Homo sapiens: one gene and its partners. The protein of the gene in region 3 interacts with the protein of the main gene of each other region in a pairwise test. Each region holds a gene or a part of one and is shown on either strand. Other genes may lie near its edges.

Region 1 (3,656 bases), on a different chromosome or scaffold from region 3:
TTCCAGCAGAGTTGCTGGCCTTACCTGGTAGCTGATGGCTTAGGGCTCACAAGAGTACAAAACAGAAGCAACCAGATCTTTTTTTTTGAGAGGGAGTCTCACTCTGTCACCCAGGCTGGAGTGCAGTGGCTCAGTCTTGGCTCACTGCAACCTCCACCTCCCAGGTTCAAGCAATTCTCCTGCCTCAGCTTCCCGAGTAGCTGGGATTACAGGCGTGCACCACCATGCCCAGCTAATTTTTGTATTAGTAGAGATGGGGTTTCACCATGTTGGACAGGCTAGTCTGGAACTCCTGAGCTCAGGTGATCTGTCCGCCTCGGCCTCCCAGAGTGCTGGGATTACAGGCGTGAGCCACCGTGCCTGGTCTGCAACCAGATCTTCTTAAGGTTTAGACTTGTAAGGGATACAGTATCATTTCTGCCTTATTATACTGGTTAAAGCAAGTCACAAATCTAGCCCAGGTTCAAGGGTACAAATGTGTGAATCCATTTGGGGCCACCCATGTAACAGATTACCATAAATTTTATTTAAGTATAACATCAGCTTTACTATACCAAAACAGGACTTACGGAAAACTGTTTTGGAAGCTGAAGCTTAGGCAGCTTACTACTTTCCGCAAATCTGGATTTTGAGTCTGAGCATGCCACAGGGAAAGCTGAGTCTAAAAAGTGCAAATGACAGCACATCTGGCTTACTACGCAAATGGGAATACCTAGCACTCTCCTTGGTTAGAAAAGAGGAGAACATTTGTGGCCTCTGAGGTTTTTCCTAGTGTGCCACCATAATAGGGTAGGATTGACTTGCCTTCTGCTTGAGGGCAGTGGGATCTAACAAAGTACAGGACCCAAGAGTCCATGCTGCTTGGAAGTAGTGATTTACCCGATCTCGTGAATTGGAACAGACAGCATCCCATGCAGAAAATGGGCCACAGATGGGCAGAGATCGATTCCCTCTGCCCTTGTGATTGGATTTGAGACCTAGGGGAGAAGGGTTTCTTGACTATCACTCTGGCCTTGACCAGAGTGAGCAACCTGTCCCCCACGCGCTCCAAGCCCCAATGGCATTTTCTGTTTGCAGTGTCTTGAAAAAGCTTGGGATAAGCTACTCTTCCTTGGAGAGGTGTCATTATAGTGGAGAGAATTCTCTTTCCTTCTAGAGACTGGAATGGTAATCCTCTCTTATGGAAATACAATGAATAAGGTGCTGCTTCTCCTTTCCAAGAACAGGTAGATTCATTGATTGCTATCTGGGTTTTTCTCGCATTATCACTTAACCTTATCCACTATCGCTTTATTTTAGTCTTAGCAGTATTTTTTGTTTGTTTGTTTTTAGTTCAAGTTGGCTGCTAAGTAATGCCATGGTTAAAGGTGAAATGAAGAAAATGAGTGTTTAGTTTTTATTACATTATAGCTTCTGAGTGGAGTAGTGAATGCATTTCATTTTAAGAATTTAGGTTATTAGTGCATAGCTGCGAAGCATTTTTGAAGCATTTCATGTACACTAAAAAACGGGCCCCTGCATCCTAATGCAAATCTCTTTGCAAATTTCTGAAAATAGTACATTGGCTGTTGCGGGGAGGAGTTTGGTAATTGGATGTACTGAGAAACATGATTTATAGAAATAGGAAAGGCCAGGGCACAAAGAAGGGCACGGATAGAGTTACATGAAGGTGCTTCTTGATGGCTGTCCTCCCTACCCTAAATTATTTGGGTAGTTAAAAAATATCCTAGCATTAACAGAATGTAGGTATGATAGCCTTTTAGGAAACAAGGAAAACAAGTTCTTTTGATAGCTGTTCAGTATACTCATAAATCTGATTGACTGGGCTGGGTGGAAGCTGACTGTTGAGTCCTGACTTGAAATTAGGATACTGTGGTTACACATTAGCCCCAACTTGCCAAGATGTCCTACTTTTTGTCTGTGTTTAGTTAGACTGGGGAGGAGAATTAGTTAAATGAACCTGTTTTGTATAAAGTAGGATATTCTTTACCTTAGAAGTAAACAAACTAGATTGTTCTTCTCTTTTTAAGTTTTTAACGGTAGAGGCACTTTTGGCATACAGGTTAAGAGTCACAGTTTAAAGTCAGGCAGACCTGACTTCTGGTAGTATTGCTTAATGGCAGGATTGCCTCAGTTTCTTCTTTTGTAAAATGTAAAGAATACCATCCTTAATGGATTTTTGTAAGGATTAATTGAAATAATGTTTATAAAGCAGAAAGCATGGTGGCTAGAACGTAAGCCCTTAAATCATGTTTATTGCTCGTAATTCAGTATTATGAAGTTGAAAATTCAAACAAGTATTCACTTTGCTGTGAGCTACTCATTTCTCAAAGACAGTTCTAGCTTCGTTTTGGCATGGGCAGAGCTCCTTATCAAATTTCCACCCCCAGCTTTTTTTTGAGACAGGGTCTCCGACAGCTCTGTCTCCCAGGCTAGAGAGCAATAGTGTGATCATGGTTCATAGCAGGCTTGACCTCGGGGGCTCAAGCAATCCTCCCACCTCAGCCCCACAAGTAGCTGGGACTACAGTTACGCACTAACATGCTCAGCTAGTTTTTTTTTTTTTTTAGTAGAGATGTTGCCCAGGCTGGTCTTGAATTCCTGGGCTCAAGTGATCCCCCCTACCTCGACCTCCCATAGTGCTGGGATTTACAGGCATGAGCCACCAGGCCTGGCCAAATAAACAAAAAAAAAGTTGCTAAAAGGGTAAGCACGAAATCTGGGATACTGACTTAACATGGCTGGCAATATATCAGCTAGTGATGGTTTTGCTGTGCAGCCTGGGAACAAGAAATCATTAACACCATCATTAGATGAAATATTGTATTGACCAGTGTTTGTCAAAGCGCAATCCTTATATAACAGTCGTCTGGGATGCTTATTAAACATGTTGATTCTTGAGTATCCTTTGAGATCTCTGATATGGTCCTTGAGAGTGGAGCTTAGGGATCTTCATTTTTTGCAAATATCTCAAGAGATTTTATGCACATTAGTTTGAGAACTGTTGGTAGAAACTGAATTGGTTATTTGGGGTCCTAGTGTGCTCTGTCAGAGTTCATTTTTCTAGCTAGCTAGCTAAAATATTCCTTTTTTTTTTTTTTTTTTGAGAAAAGGTCTTGTTCTGTCACCCAAGGCTAGAGTGCAGTGGCAAGATCATGGCTCACTGCAACCTTAACCAACCTCCTGGGCTCAAACGATCCTCCCACCTTAGCCTCCCTAGTAGTTGGGAGTACAGGTGTGTGCCGCGACACCTAGCTAATTTTTTATTTTTATTTATTTATTTATTTATTTTAAGACAGAGTCTTACTGTCACCCAGGTTGGAGTGCAGTGGCGCTATCTCGGCTCACTGCAACCTCTCCCTCCCAGTTTCAAATGATTCTTGTGCCTCATCCTACCGAGTAGCTGGGATTACAGGTGCATGCCACCAGGCCCAGCCAATTTTTGTATTTTTAGTAGAGACGGGATTTTACCATGTTGGCCAGGCTGGTCTCGAACTCCTGGCCTCAAGTGATTCACCCGTCTTGGCCTCCCAAAGTTCTGGGATGGATTATAGCCATGAGCCACCGTGCCCTGCCTAATTTTTTATTTTTCTTAGAGATGGGGGTCTTACCTTATTTCCCAGGCTGGTCTTGAACTCCTGGACTCAAGTGATCCT
Region 2 (3,656 bases), on a different chromosome or scaffold from region 3:
CCCTCAAGGCAGCTGTTCCTGCTCCTTCCCTTTTTCTCTTCCCATCTCAATAGCGACCTTTGGCATCTCTAGTCATAAAACCGTGGTCTCTTACTTGAAAGCATTTATCTCCAATTCTAATGAATCAATTAATTACACTGGTATTATAGCTCCCTAGAATAAGTGGGGATATAAAGTTGTCTCTCTCATTAAACAATGATGGGCAGGGATTGCATCTGTGTTTTCCATTGTAAATTCTAATGCTTTTCCACTCCTGAAAATTTTGTAAGATATAGATAAGACCATGGAACTCATTCTTCTGCTTAAATTCCTCCAGTACTTGCCAATCATAATTGGAACCAAATCCAGACTCCTTACTAAGGCCTCCTTTGATGAACAGCTTCCTGTTGCTTTGCTAACAGCCTTTCCTAGTCGTCTTCTTTCTTATGACATTCCTCTCTCTTTTACGCCTGTCAAATTCATTACAAAGTCAGAGGTATTCTATTTGCCTTTCTTTCCTCCTGAAGCATTTATCACTAATCTTCATATAAAGCTTTTCTCTTCTCATCTTTTAGACCTTGATATAAATTATATTTACCCAAAGTAACTGCCTCATACCCTGCCCTCGCTCGCATACATTCTCTCCATCACATCCATATGAATTTTTTTTGTTTTAAATGTGTTTTCTTTCTCCCAGAAGTTGACTGTAAGCTCTCTGACAGCAGGCTGCCTCCTTGAGAATTGTATCCTCATATTCTACAACACAGCCAGTCACATTATGATCATTTGTAAATATTCATTCATCATAAAGGAATAAATTATAAAAGCTATATTTATGATGCATTATTGTGAGGTTTATTCTGTTTTTCTAAGCCTTATTTTTGAAGGGCAAATGAATTTTATCATAAATGATCCATTTAAAAGAATTTGTAAATTTCCTATTCTAAGTATTACATTTTGCATAGGCTTTAATGTTAAAATATTGAGAAACACAGTCCTTTGAAATTGTATTCCACTGCTATGGAATTGCTACACTGTGGACCATACAAACAGGTATATAAATCTTCATTGTAATCACACATTCGCAGAGAATATGAAGTACATTTACTGTTATTAAATTTCTGCCTCTTACAATTTTTTGCCATCCTTGTTTCTCAAATTATATTTTCCAGAGACCAAAGGATGTTAAATTGTGAAATTTAAATTTCTAACCTAAATATTATAATAGAATTTTATTTTAATGAAGAAGGACTTAGGAAAGCAATACATTATGGATTAAAACATAAGGCAAAGGATTAACCCAAGCAGGCATCTGGAATGTACTAAAAGAAATGACGTGTACTAAACGAATGGGCGCGGTGGCTCACGCCTGTAATCCCAGCACTTTGGGAAGCTGAGGTGGGCAGATCACGAGGTCAGGAGATCGAGACCATCCTGGCTAACACACTGAAACCCCGTCTCTACTAAAAAATACAAAAAATTAGCTGGGCGTGGTGGTGGGCGCCTGTAGTTCCAGCTACTTAGGAGGCTGAGGCAGGAGAATGGTGTGAACCCAGGAGGTGGAGCTTGCAGTGAGCAGAGATGATGCCACCGCACTCCAGCCTGGGCGACAGAGCAAGACTCTGTCTCAAAAAAAAAAAAAATGGAAAGAAAGAAATGACGTGCTTTCACCTTCAACAGTGGCACTATAATATTTTGGGCTGGACAATTCTTCATTTTTAGGGAGCTGTTCTGGCTCTTTTAAGATGTGTAGCAGCAGCCCTGGCCTCTACCCACCAGATGCAGTATTATCTTCCCCTCCAGTTGTGACCAAAAAAAGTCTGCAGATCTTGTCAAATATCCCTGGCAGAGAGGGGGCAAAACTACCCCCAGTTCTATACATATATTATAAGGCATTTGCTAGAATTTCAGAATTATCATTTTTCACAAGATACTTTGGCCCTAGAAATGCTGACTCAAAGCCATTATTTTGGGCCTTCTACCAATGACGTGTTTGTTTCCCTTGAAGGCTTGCCAGAATCTTTATGTAGGTGACTCTAGATCATGGTTATTTATTTTCATTTTCTCAGATATTAAAGCATATTTTCCTTCTGAGTTTTGAATGGTAAGGGTAAGGCTATTCACCGCATACTATCATCCAAATAGAAGTGGATGTGCAACCACAGATATTTCATTGAAAAATCTCAGAAAGAGAAAAGCGTATTAAACATCACAGATACAGATGTCTACGCTGAAATGTCAACTTATAGATAGATGGCATAACCCTAAAAAGGTTGACAATTCCATTTTTGGTGCAGTTACAAATCATTTCACTTGTTTGTATTTCAGGACCTCCAGGATATAGTGGCTACCCTGGGCCCCAGGTCAGCTACCCACCCCCACCAGCCGGCCATTCAGGTCCTGGCCCAGCTGGCTTTCCTGTCCCAAATCAGCCAGTGTATAATCAGCCAGTATATAATCAGCCAGTTGGAGCTGCAGGGGTACCATGGATGCCAGCGCCACAGCCTCCATTAAACTGTCCACCTGGATTAGAATATTTAAGTCAGGTAATTTCAAAGACACAAAATACTCATAAAAAACAGAACTGTGCTTCCAGCTTGCTTAACCAGATTAGCAAATGAATAATTCACCAAAGTCTGAAATAGCAAAACTGTATTTTCTGCTAACAGATTACTCTAATTCTTCTAGGTCTGGTTCAATTTTAAAGCAAAATACAAATGCCTTAGAAAATTGTATTTTCTGTTATCTTAAATACAATCTATGATAATGGCCAATAGCAAACATTTAATTAGCACTGTTTCCTGCCTTTGTTGTATGCCTGATACATGTATTAACTCATTTAATCCTTATTGAAAGTCTGTGATGTATAGGTGCTACATTTTTCAAAAGAAGAAACTGAGGTCCAGAGAGGTTATATAGCTCACTCTGGGGTGAGAACCTAAAGAGTCAAGACTGTTTTTTTAATCCCGAAACTTTGGTACTGAGCGAAGTGCTCTTTAGTCTCAATACTGAATAATTGCCTTATAATTTGGAAGAAAATTTAAATAAAGTTTATTGTTGAGTTTCAATAAGTGGCCCCAAACAAGGGGTTAATATTTTATGTATAATATGACTCACCTTTTTATTGTAACTAATAAAACTGCATTTTTATGATGCTGCTTTTGTTCTTTGGAAGACCTAATTTTATAAATGCCATTAATAAAGGAGTAAAAAGTCCTGGATTTTGTTGCACTAAATTATAATTAATCTCAGCAATAAGAGGTTTAACATTTAATTGGTGTTAGAAATCAGGTAGGTCAAATAGAAACAAGAAACTCTGTGTGTCCAGTCTATACACATACAAATATTCTTGTGATATTCAACCAGTTTTCATTTCATAAATCATTTCTTTCTTGCACTCTCTTTAGTAACTTAATTTCCCACAATGTGCTTAAGTGGCATAATCATAGGAATTTTTGGTCATTATTATATTATGCAAGAAATACATAGAAATAGATATTTTAAAAATCAGAGTCTCATAAAATACATAAAGGATGTTATCACATATGACAAAGGTTGATATTAAGTATGCTTAATACAAATCTGAAACTTGTAAAAAAAAATCTCTTTGATGGCTAAAAAAGTTACCAATATTTCTTCAGCCTATTCTAGAAGGAAGATTGTTTTCTACCTTTTGA
Region 3 (3,656 bases):
CAAAAATTAGCTGGGTGTGGTGGCAGATGCCACCCAGCTACTCGGGAGGCTGAGGCAGGAGAAACACTTGAACCTGGGAGGCAGAGGTTGCAGTGAGCCGAGATCACGCCATTGCACTCCAGCCTGGGGGACAGGAGTGAGATTTCGTTGCAAAATAATAATAATAATAAAAGAAATATAATGGTTACATTTTGAGAAAGTTGTATGAAAAAATTATTACTAAGACTCAATGACTAACATAACTGTATTTGAAAACAACAGTATCTGTAATTTTTAAAAATGCCGTCAATAGTAAAGAAGATAAATTCCTACCAGGGCTCCTATACATTTAGTATGTTATTAATGATTAACTGCTATTATATATAATAACGACATTAGAATATGTACCCTGTAATTTCTAGGGAGAATATCTACAAGCGATTGTACTATCAAATTAACAAAGCAAACTGAAGTAGCCACAATCCTTACTTCTGCTTTAGTAGCCATAATCCTTATTTCTGCTTTAGTAGCCATAATCCTTATTTCTGCTTAAAACTAGTAACATTTCTCCTTGCCCCAACAACATAGGCCCAAATCTATCCCCTACCAGGTAAGAAAAGTAAAATGACTGAAAAAAATTCTATGAATGGTAAAAACCTAAAATAACAACCAAATATAAAATATGTTTGACAACAGAACTTGGTACCAGTAAAGTTAATCTTAGAGACCATCCACTTAAGGTTAAATTAGAGCCAAAAGGATAACCTGTTTTAACAAAATGAGGATGACTCAAGTCAAATGTCAGTCTCTTTCACATATATAAATTTTTTTTCTGTGTCTACAACCTATTCCTGTCAATATGAGATTGGAGGTATTGCCCTACTCTACTCTCTTTCTGTCCCCATATAACATTTTGCCCGCTCCCCCCGCCTCAAGAAAACACAAGGTGTTTAGACTAGCTCAAGGTCAAAAAGTAAATTAATGGTAGGATTAGAGATAAGTTAAAAACAAAACATCTCATTCCTATCCCTTGCTCTAAACTCTTAGTCACTAACATTGTTAAGGCAGGCACAAGTTATAAGATAGATGAACTGTGCTATGGAGATGAAAAAGAAGGGTTAGGGTCTGTGATCTATTTTTTACCTCTTTAGATTTGGAACTTCTACCAGTAGTGCTTTTAGGATTCTTAGTGTTTTGCTCAGCCAAAGTCTGAAATAGTAAATAAGAAATACAGAAAAACGGAATTTACAACCATATTATTAATGTTCTGGAAAAAAAAACAAAAAACAAAAAAAAACAGTAAACATTACCCAAATACAGTCAATTATGCAAATTATTTAACATGTATACAAAACTAAGTCAACAGTCACTAAACAGTATAGGCACAGTCTGTACAAGTTGTAGTTAAATTCAGTTTTACTGATCTTTTCGTCCCACAATGTCTAGTTAGGCAATCAGTGACCTGATAAAGGAAGCTTCAATTTAAGAGAGGAAACAGTTTCCCATTCAGAAGCAGAGTGGTAAATCACCTTAGGAGATTCACTGCAGACTTTTTTTTTTTTTTTTTAAACCACAGTTATTTCCAAATTGTATCCAAATAATGCTTTTCAAACATGTCAATAAATTATGAACTTGAGTTTAATACTCTGAATGTCTACTGGCTTAAACAATGGAATCATTTAAGAAAAGGAAATGGGAGCTTCCGGGGTAGAGTGAGGAGATGAAAGTATGAAACAAAATTACATCTCCTACTACATAGCTACAGCAGCGGAGCTAATCACTTCAAAGACACACTGTGCCATTCTTCCTACCCTCCTCACCTTATTGTTGCTGTCATCCCGTTTCATGATGGAAGGTCTAGCCTCTGTTTCCTGAGATTGTTTTGTTATATCTCTGTAATCCAGTTTAGAAAGCTTGCCTTGCAGGGCTGAGATCCTTCCACTGCCTCCTCTGGTAAGACTGCTCTGAGTAGGTTTGAATTTACTGCTGCTTTCTGCCAAGCCTGACCTGGCACTTGTGGGTTTAAGCAGACCAAATTCCTTGGCTGAAAGTTTCTTTTCAGCATTTATTTGATCTCTGGGCACAGATTTTGGAAAACTTTTCTGATTTTCAGTTTTTGAAACTGTAGCTTTTGCCTTAGGAGAAGAGACTATAACAGCCTTGATGCTTGGTTTACTGCTAGATACATCTGATACAGCCAGAATACTAGTTTTACTAGTTTCATCAGGCTTATTAGCCTGACCCACTCCTTTATTTGGGTATGCCTTGAATAAAGTGTTTTCTGCAGGCTTTTCTTTCATTGCTGCCATCTTTTCCACCTTTTCTGCATCCATCCTACCTTCATTCTTTTCAGCCTTCTCTGTTCCTATTTGAAGATCCATTCTGGTTTCCTTAGTATTAAATTCCTTCTCCTCCTTTTCATCCATGTTACCTTTTTTTTCAGAAATATTCTTTTTGTCCACTGTCTTCTCATCCCCAGTGGGAATTCCTGGTACTAACGTCACAATACAAGTTGATGGCAATATTTCCGAAACAGTTTCATTTTTTTCTACTTCAGCTACAGCTTCTACCATAGTCTGTGTAATTCCAGAAATGAAATCTTCTGCTTCAGATGGAGATTCTTCTAGAATTCCTTTGAGGTTCCTTTCTTCTGCAAACACACTGTCAGATGGTAACAATGCTGTTTTAGGGTTAATAATTTCTGCCCCTTTCTTCTCCAAGTCACTGTTAAACATCTGCTGATTTAAAGCACACTCCTCGGCATTTTCAGTGAATTGTTCAATACTGACTGAAGCGGATGCTACAAGAGGAATTTCTTCTTTGACCTCCTCTCCTTGAGTTTCAAGCTCCAAAGTTTCAACAGCAAAGTCAGAATCACATGTTGCTTTTTCAGCTTCTTCCTCACAAGGCTCTTCCTGCTGTACCAAAGTTTCTGTTTGAATGCTGGGAGTACTTTCTTCTTCAAGCTCATTAGGTTTAACAGAGGGACTATCAGTTGCTGTTTGCACCTCACTTTCATCAATTGGACTGTTTTTCAAGCCAGGGCTAAAAGTATTTAAAAACAAACAAAAAGAACACAAACAAAAACACAAACAAAAATCAAACTATGATGAGAATTCAACCATTATAAAGAATCCTGCTGATGCCAATTGTTAAGACTTCCTGATGCATTCGTAATAAGCACTGGGAAATCCAACCAATCAGCATAAAATGGGTAAGATGTATTGCTGGAAATACGTAAATAATATAAATTATGACTGTTGATATGTTCCTTTTGCGCTCATGTGATTACAGCCAATATTTTCCCTCCTCTGTCAAGTTAACCCCTGACATTGAAAGGTCAAATGTGAATCTGAGACACTTCAAATATTATCAGGTCCTATTCCCAACAGTGGTAACTGAAATAATAAAATATGTGTACAGTTCTACAATAAAACTAATGATCCATGCATTATGATTTAAAATTTTATAAGTGAACCTTACCTAAAAAGAACATAAACAGAAACTGGTGGGGGGAAAAGACCATACTCTAAATCATATCACCTTTTTATTTTTTTTTTGGATGTAAAATATTTTTTTAATTACCCAAGAACCATATTTATTAATGATAATACTTAGAACATTATTTGGAAAGTATTCTTTATATACTCTATTGAGGATTTAAAGCTAGTGACAAA

What was found.
Region 1: the proteins of ZNF638 (region 3) and WWP1 interact in a two-hybrid assay, tested with the Homo sapiens proteins (one large-scale study listed by BioGRID and IntAct).
Region 2: the proteins of ZNF638 (region 3) and PLSCR1 interact in a two-hybrid assay, tested with the Homo sapiens proteins (one large-scale study listed by BioGRID and IntAct).

The regions. Positions count from the first base shown.
Region 1 is NC_000008.11:86,348,953-86,352,608, forward strand, and holds part of WWP1 (NEDD4-like E3 ubiquitin-protein ligase WWP1), read left to right. Parts: intron 1-3,656. UniProt on the Homo sapiens protein: E3 ubiquitin-protein ligase which accepts ubiquitin from an E2 ubiquitin-conjugating enzyme in the form of a thioester and then directly transfers the ubiquitin to targeted substrates.
Region 2 is NC_000003.12:146,527,483-146,531,138, reverse strand, and holds part of PLSCR1 (phospholipid scramblase 1), read left to right. Parts: intron 1-2,307; coding exon 2,308-2,525; intron 2,526-3,656. UniProt on the Homo sapiens protein: Catalyzes calcium-induced ATP-independent rapid bidirectional and non-specific movement of phospholipids (lipid scrambling or lipid flip-flop) between the inner and outer leaflet of the plasma membrane resulting in collapse of the phospholipid asymmetry which leads to phosphatidylserine externalization on the cell surface.
Region 3 is NC_000002.12:71,422,182-71,425,837, reverse strand, and holds part of ZNF638 (zinc finger protein 638), read right to left. Parts: intron 3,025-3,656; coding exon 1,800-3,024; intron 1,189-1,799; coding exon 1,123-1,188; intron 1-1,122.